Regions from separate parts of the Homo sapiens genome. Here region 2 is reported to be linked to region 1. The links are microRNA targets in miRTarBase. Many come from high-throughput screens and were not tested one by one. Region 1 holds a microRNA gene; the other region holds the end of a gene's coding sequence. Distances are between the middles of the regions.
What was found. Region 1 holds the annotated microRNA hsa-miR-302a-3p (UAAGUGCUUCCAUGUUUUGGUGA, at 2,479-2,501, shown strand). A microRNA usually pairs through its seed, bases 2 to 8, with sites in the 3' UTR of a target mRNA and lowers its output. Matches are read on the target gene's strand: a 7mer-m8 pairs with bases 2 to 8, a 7mer-A1 pairs with bases 2 to 7 and ends in A, and an 8mer does both.

Region 1 (4,000 bases):
AATTCTAACTTGATTTGTTTTATCTTCCATATTCAAAACATTTTCACACAGGGAAATAATAAGAGAAGAAAGGAACAAATACCCTAGGGGCTCAAAATCATTACCCGGACTTGTTTCCTGCCAGGTAGAGGCTCTGTGCTAATGATCTTCACAATCACTCCACTCACGAACTGTGGTCCTGTTGCATTAACTTTCTCCTGGGTGCGACACTCTTCCCTGTTGGCTGCTGATTAGAAAAGGAAAAAGACCAGGACTAAATCTCTTACACTTAACAACAATTTAATACTTAGGAGGACTACCTTAGAATAATTCCTGAGGCAGATTTAAATAATTTAAAACGTATTTAATTTTAAAGTAAACAATTAAAGGTTATATGTCATACTGCTTATTTCAAAATACCATGAATAAAACTCAGAAAGTTTTATTATTCTACATGCAAATTGTTACTGCTAGAAGAGCATTCGTAAAGCCTTTAAATTTGCCCCTTCTCCCTGAACAAAGGAACAGTAAATTTTTACTCAATAAAGTTAAAAAAAAGTTAAAGGATACTGTGTTTTAAATACATTATTATTCAAACGTGAACATTTATTTTTACAAGAAATGAGAATTTAAAATGTATCCTAATTTTGAATTCATAGGAATTCTGCTTTAACTTGTTCCTGCTTGTGGTGCATACTACAGAATGAAATTAACAGGTGAGAAACTACAATCTTCATTCCTACAAACTTGCTCAGTCTGCAAACTCTGCACTCATGTGCTTGATGAAAACTGTAGAGAAAACTCAGGTTATTTAAAAAATTGTTTTAAATGAGCCTTTTAAATATTCTTATATCAAGAGTAAGTAACACATCTGGATAACTTAACAAATCAAGAATTGTTCTAATAATGAAATAGAATAATCAAGTTTTTTAAAATTAAAATTTATCTTATAACAACTCAGAGATAGCATTTACATATATAAGTACATTATAATGTTGTCAAAACTATCAGTGATCTTTACTTTTTTCATTTTTCATTCCAGTGTTTTGAGGTACTCCACTGTCTGTTTCCATTTCTGACTCTGATTTTATTTGGGATATTGTTTTTTTTAAAGAAGCCATGCTAGCTTTTTGTAGCGCTAAATACTCTTTTTTCAAATCCATCCATTCGCTCCTACAAGGAAAGAAATGGTGATAACAGATGACTAAATATAAAAAGTAAATAGGGAAATATCTAAATATATACATTCACAATGACTTGGAGCAACTCCTCCACCAACTTTCCTGTTTCTTTAAACACATATTCAAAATATTTCCTAGGTTCTAAAGACATTTAGCAAAATAAGCTAAGGGAGTTCCTCTTCCCCCAATATTCAGATTAAATGTTTTAAGATTGCCAATTAAATTTTTGAGTGTCTGAAGTATTTTAATTTATAAAAGTAAAATTTTAGCATTAATTCCTTAACTAGTAACATTTACTAAATCAGTCATCTCTGTGGGAAAAGGGCGAGATTAAAGATTTGTTAAACTGCTTCCAATTTGAGAGATAACATTCCTTAGTATTTACTTGAATCAAAAAGAATTTCTAAGTAGAACAAAACACCCCGTGGAAGCAATCTATTTATTTACATACATTTAACATGTAGATGCTTCTTCAAACAGAGTTCCTCCAGATAGAAACACAATGCCTTTCTCGGCTCAGTGGGAGCACTCATTGTTACCCTAATCTATGCCATCAAACAAGCAGATAGGAGATTTTCTTTTTCTTTTTCTTTTTTTTTTTTAAGAGGAAGATATCTTGTGGTAATGGTTTTAGCTGTTAACATTGACATCTGTATACTTCAAAAAAAAAAAAAAGGATCCAGACCCACCCAGGATCATACATTCCCTGAGAGCTGATACATTAAAATAACAAAAGGCCCTTGTAATGATTCTCTGAGATAAAAAGGCAAAAGGAATTCAAGAGTTAAGAATAGTATAAATAGAAGTGGCTGAAGTCCCTGCCTTTTACCCTTCTGGAGGAGAACACGAATCTTTGGGAACTAGTTCAGGAAGGTAAAAAAATTTTTTTCTTCTAAAGTTATGCCATTTTGTTTTCTTTCTCCTCAGCTCTAAATACTCTGAAGTCCAAAGAAGTTGTATGTTGGGTGGGCTCCCTTCAACTTTAACATGGAAGTGCTTTCTGTGACTTTAAAAGTAAGTGCTTCCATGTTTTAGTAGGAGTGAATCCAATTTACTTCTCCAAAATAGAACACGCTAACCTCATTTGAAGGGATCCCCTTTGCTTTAACATGGGGGTACCTGCTGTGTGAAACAAAAGTAAGTGCTTCCATGTTTCAGTGGAGGTGTCTCCAAGCCAGCACACCTTTTGTTACAAAATTTTTTTGTTATTGTGTTTTAAGGTTACTAAGCTTGTTACAGGTTAAAGGATTCTAACTTTTTCCAAGACTGGGCTCCCCACCACTTAAACGTGGATGTACTTGCTTTGAAACTAAAGAAGTAAGTGCTTCCATGTTTTGGTGATGGTAAGTCTTCCTTTTACATTTTTATTATTTTTTTAGAAAATAACTTTATTGTATTGACCGCAGCTCATATATTTAAGCTTTATTTTGTATTTTTACATCTGTTAAGGGGCCCCCTCTACTTTAACATGGAGGCACTTGCTGTGACATGACAAAAATAAGTGCTTCCATGTTTGAGTGTGGTGGTTCCTACCTAATCAGCAATTGCGTTAACGCCCACACTGTGTGCAGTTCTTGGCTACAGGCCATTACTGTTGCTAATATGCAACTCTGTTGAATATAAATTGGAATTGCACTTTAGCAATGGTGATGGATTGTTAAGCCAATGACAGAATTTAAACCACAGACTTACTTTGATAGCACTCTTAATGGTATAACTTCTTCTCCCATTTTATGTCTCTCTTTATGTTTTTTCTTATGTTTCCTTTTTGTTTTCAAGAGAGAGCTATCTTTTAGATCTCCAGTATCCTTTTCCTCTTCAGTAGAGATTTCTATATCTTGAAATAAATAAAAAAGCTCTCCGTTAAGACATGGGGCTGTGAAATGGGTGAAACAGAAGCCAATTAAAACCTAATTAATTAAAAACTAATTAATTAAAATTAATTAGTTTTATCTAATTAAAACCTTGTAGTTTTACCTCTATTTTCCTTGGAAGCTTCTGATGCTTCCTTAATGATGTCTTTCTGAATAATTTTCTTTACTTTTGATCGGGGAGCTAGGGATTCTGCATCTTCAGAGCTGCTTCTCTTCCTCTTCCCTGTTCTGACTTCAGGTAAGCTAGATGCTTCAACTCTGTCCCGTTTTTTCTTTTTCTTTGAGCACTGCTTTTGGGGTTCAGTGGACTCAATGTCAGAGCCCTCAGATGTGGGTCTGGATCTTTTCATTTTACTGATGCTGGTGTTGCTTGTGTCCATGTTTTCTTCTTTGGCTTGGATATTGTCTTCCTTTTTCATTCGGCCTTTCTTCTTCTTTTTCTTTTTCTTCTCTTCTGTAAAAGTGCCATCATTATTAGTTCATCTTACTTCAACTACACCTATTTAAATATTGAAAAATACTCACCCACAACTCTTAAGGCTGGAATGGGCTTATTTTTCACTGTTTTAGGAAATATGCCAGGTTTTCTTGGTGCTTCTTCTGGTGGGTTGTTAAGAAACTGAAATGATTGCAAAAGTTACTATTTTAATACTTGTTTTCTTTTCTTTCTTTTTTTTTTTTTAGGATCTGGACTTACCTCAATTGCTTTTGCTGCTTGTTCTTTTGTTTCAAATTCCACAAACGCAAATCCCTTTGGATCTCCAGTAGACTTATAATGTGGTATACTTATATAAACAACATTGCCACATTTCCCAAATACTCTTTCAATCCAGCTGTGATTAACATTTTTGGGAAGTAACTCCTATTATAAATTAAAAGCAATATTAGAGTTTTTCACAATCAGAATGTCAATAAATTTTTAACTTAATTATATTGTTTCTGTGCCAGTTTCTGACTGGGGACCCG
Region 2 (4,543 bases), 64 Mb from region 1:
AACCATGTTACGGACAGTACTTCAATATTTCCGGATTATGGGATTGCAGACAACTATCATTTTTTACCTTTATACTTTTTAATATTTTTAGTTTATGTTCTACAGCAGAGTTTCTATTACTTTCGAAATCAGAAGAAACAGATTTTTTTATTTCTTTTAAAGAGAAAACATTAAGATGACTTAATGTAGATAATTTGTTTCAAACTAGCATTCAGTTAACATAGTTTTAACCAGTTTGTATTACAGTAAATAAGGCCGATGAGTATAATCGGTTTCATTTTCAGACTGGTAAGCAGAGGGCCATTTAGCCACCCAAGACTTATATTTAGGATCATTCAAAATACATCAGTGGTTGAACCTCCATATGGGTTTTTCTGTTGCACTGAGTATATAACAGGTTTAAACTTATGTATTGATTTATAATACAAGTATAGTGACATTTAATTTTAAATGGCTCTTCAAGTTTTTAGACTGGCTTGAGAGAAAAAAACAGAAGGGTGTCTTTTTTCCCTCTCATCACTATTAATCTAATTGTAACATGTAATATTATTTTAATTGTAATTATTCTAATTGTAACATGTAATTGCAAAGCAAATATCTCCTAAAGGAATATGGAGAACTCATTAAACAGTGTACAATTCTTGATTTTTCCATCCATACAAGAAAAGATGCACGTGATCACCTAAATATTCGCATTTGGTATGAAAATGCATTAATTGTCCCTCTTGGAAACTCATAATAGCTTTTTGCTTGTTTTTTTCTAACTAGATACCATACATAGTTATGATCTAGGCAAATGCTAGCTTTTTATAACTAGGTATCAATTCACAGCAGGTAAAAAAGTTCCAAGAACAAATCAATTTAGAGTAAACTGTAAATTTCCTTCAAGTAAAATCCATATATGAAATAACTCTGACAGAGAAAATATAAGACATAATCCAACCCCATGAAGACTAAATCTGAAAGGGCAATATGATTTGGGTTTCTGTGGTTAAAGAAAAACTCAACTGAGTAATTTATTAAAACCAAGTGTAGGCAACTGAGAGGAAAAAAGGAATCTTACCATATCCAGAGATTAATTAAACACTTAAAGAATATAAATTTAATAATAAACATTATGGTCAGGCTGTTTATTAAGGAGGCAACCACATATACAAGTTCGGCTATAGAAATGTTTGCAAATCAAACGTCATGTGACCTTAAAGGACCATGCTTAACGTCAAAAATGGACACCTGTACATTCAATAAAAAGTTAATTTAAACATACATAGTCTAGATCATTCTAGAGTTATACAAACATCTGGGGCCACATATGTATCTAATTTTCTTTCAAAAAAACTTTTTTTTTTTATAAAAGTGATGTATTGAGATAATTTTAAAAAGTATCTGACAATTATGAATGGTCCCCAGTTTTACAAAATGTGATTTCCAGGATACGAAACTGAAAAAAAGTCAACTCTTCAGAGAGTGTTTTATATTGTACAAACAAGTTTTGTAGAAAAATGATCCAGCAAATGCTTGAGTTAAGAATATTTATATTTTTTCCAATTCTTTACACTTTTATTAACACACTTACAAAAAATAACATTCAAACACTGAGAAAATTAAATAACTTTGGAAGCAGAGCTCATTGTTTTCTGCTTACATATAAGTGACAATTCTGGGCTGTTGGCACAAAATAATCAACATTCATAAAACCCTTACTACTATATATCAAACATAAGTTAAAATCATAGGCACTAGTTTATCAAATCCACATTTCTTCTGTAAGACTAACCACAGTAAATCCTTAGATTTTCCCAAACAGAAAAATTGCAATATACAAAGGCTTTCTAGTAAAAAGGCAATTTTTCTCTTTAAGAAACTAAAAGTCAACAGTCTGTGGTAGTACAACAGCAGGTAAAATAATACTTTACCAAACTCAGATCAAAAATATGTTTTAACAAGTGATGAAATATTTTAATAAAAAAAAATAGACATTTTTTTCTGATGCAGCCATTTAAAAACAAAGTTAAATAACCTGAATACTCCTTTTGAAACTGATTATCTAACTTAAAAAATGTAATATGTTTCATAATAGGTAAAATTCCTTTTAATTATTAGATTGCAGCATATATATTTTTTGAAATGTTGCACTGAAAACTGAGACTTGTTCTGTTTTGTACGTGGTTTTTAAAAGAGACAGTAGCTACTTCTTTCTTTTACTTACTTAGACATGAGATACCCCCCTCCCAAAAGAAGATGCTTTATCTTCCTCTGAAAAGCAACATTTTTTAGTTCATTATCATGTAGAATTCTGGCGCCATCCTTTCCTGACCCACCCCATCACCCTCAAATTCAAGGATAAAGTTTCTTCCTTGCATTATACACCAAATACATAGTACTGGCAGTTTAAATCTCCAGCTGCTTGTGCTAAATGAATGACTCTCCACTGGTCAAGCTGACAGACTACCATGGTGTCAGTCATGACAGAATGGAGGTCCTGGTTTTAAGTTTTTATCATCAACCTATCAACCTTAATGCTGTCCAGAATATCAAGCCTTCTATTTCTCTCTCCCAATTTCTTTTGCCAACTTACGGAATGTCTTTGATTAACAGGAAATGAACTTATGTTCAAATCTCTAAAAGCTTTTAGATGACCTAAGTGACAATATCTTAGAGCTGTTCAAATTAAGTATTTAAAAACAGACCTCATAATAAAAAATGAGAGGCCTGCTACAGAAGCAAGTTTTACTCTGGTAAAAGTCTGATAAAATTGAAATAGCCGATTTCAAGGATATATTAAGAGCCATTAGAGAGCAAGTATCAGGTTAGAGTCATACGTAGTAGGGTTTTTTTTTTACCAAAAATGCAAAAATTGATGTAAGGCAGAATCTAAGTCAAAAGGAAAAGAATTTTCAATAGATGTTTTATACAGTTACTCAGTTTAAAGTGGATCAACTTAAGTAGGATTTAGCAGGCTATATTTTCCTACCACATAATAGACCGTTATGCCATGTAATAGCAACAATACAACTGTCATCACCAGAGATTTTGTAGGTTAAGTGCATAGATTTTTTTCCCCCTCTCTCTCATGGTATGGTTTTGTTCCAGGTTGCAAGCACCGAGGTGGTGTTGTATCAAGAATAAAGACACACACTACTTGTTCTTTCCTATCATGAAAACCTGCTAATAGAAACAAGATCTCTTAGTTCTGTAAAGATAACAGCATGTGAAGAAGTTGGCTTCAATAGCAAAGGCCATCTTTCCTGAGCCAGGAACTATAAAGTTCAGAAAGATTGTACAACTGATATTAAGCCCTTTTGGCAATCAAAACAAACACACACAAGTTTGATGTGTCAATGCAACATGATGGATACATGCTGTAACACTATCTGGTGGTGGTGACATGTGAGCTACATCCAAAACTTAAGATTAAATGACAATTTTTCTTTTCTAATGAATCTGCAAAAATCATTTCTGAAATTCTGCTAAATTTAGGAATGTTTTAATCTCTAGCCCAGGTTTCTTTCCTCCCACCCCCTAATCTCAATCTGTAGTTTCCTGGTGTACTAGTGAAACACTTTAGATAATTAGTCAGAATATTAGTTCTCATTAACACAAATATTTATTGATACTATTTATACAGTAAATTAGGTTGAATGTGAAGTTTTGGATAGCCTGAATTCACCATTTTCTTGTGCACAAATGGGCATTTTTCTCATTTACAAATGGGCATTTCTCTTTGGCATCCATTAGGTATTTGCCCAGATATTGGCCTCTGTCAAATATTTTTTAAAAATCAACCTAGTTTCTATTAAACAAAACTAAAAGTGATTCTATGGAGAGTGATTGTATGATTACCAAACACATCTGATGTTAAATGTCATTAAAGTGCTGTTTGATGATCTCTGTCGGTTTGTGCTAATTAAGACAGAGAGGGCTGGGATTTTATAAATCCCAAGAGTCTTATCTGAACAGTCTGCATATAAAAGTTGTTTTTTAGCCTGGTGAAGGGTATCCATGAAGCCGTGGACTTCTGCATTCTTGTCTTTGCTGGTCAGTAACAGCCATCTTTCCAACTGTCATCTTTCATGCTACCATAGGTTTTAGGAGCTGGCAAGGATCTGTAATAAAGCAATTTTGTAATTAAAATTTGATAAATGTCTTTATGAAATAGTACCATACTATCTCACACATATATTAATTACTCTTCAGGTGGCATCACGATCCCATGAAGGCCGTACCAAGTCCTAAGCTCTAAACAGGTACTAGTACAACCTCCCCACACTCTGCATTTTCACAACTTCCAAGTTTTACTGGGCACCAGATGACTTCCCATTTTGTTAACATAGCTACTAGATAAAAGAAAGGAAAAGATGGTCTCACCTTTTCCAAGCACACAGATAACCAACCTTATCATTTACTTATTATTTTGAGAGGCAGAATGATGAATGTGATATTAGAAGCTCAGTGTCAGCATCACTAGAAAGGCAGTATGGGACAGTGATTAAAAGAGCTCCAAAGTCAGACATACTTGGAACTCATAGTTTTATTAGCTATG

Region 2: the mRNA of SLAIN2 is a reported target of hsa-miR-302a-3p. Seed matches in the 3' UTR shown: 7mer-m8 at 3,872-3,878 and 7mer-A1 at 3,042-3,048.

What each region holds. Positions count from the first base shown.
Region 1 is chr4:112,646,687-112,650,686 of GRCh38, reverse strand. It overlaps MIR302A (microRNA 302a), which reads left to right and starts at 2,436; the gene lies at 2,436-2,504. LARP7 (La ribonucleoprotein 7, transcriptional regulator) reads right to left here. Exons shown (of 13, transcript NM_016648.4): 5 at 3,732-3,896; 6 at 3,560-3,653; 7 at 3,138-3,488; 8 at 2,853-2,997; 9 at 1,001-1,152; 10 at 105-226. MIR302CHG (miR-302/367 cluster host gene) reads left to right here and starts at 636. Exons shown (of 3, transcript NR_146092.1): 1 at 636-695; 2 at 2,088-2,174; 3 at 3,719-3,967. MIR367 (microRNA 367) reads left to right here and starts at 2,746; the gene lies at 2,746-2,813. It also overlaps MIR302D, MIR302C and MIR302B. RefSeq lists an enhancer at 1,094-1,816.
Region 2 is chr4:48,421,574-48,426,116 of GRCh38, reverse strand. SLAIN2 (SLAIN motif family member 2) reads right to left here. Exons shown (of 8, transcript NM_020846.2): 8 at 1-4,106. The coding sequence ends at 4,040. Among named protein-coding and RNA genes, the nearest start is that of SLC10A4, 59 kb to the left of the region's middle.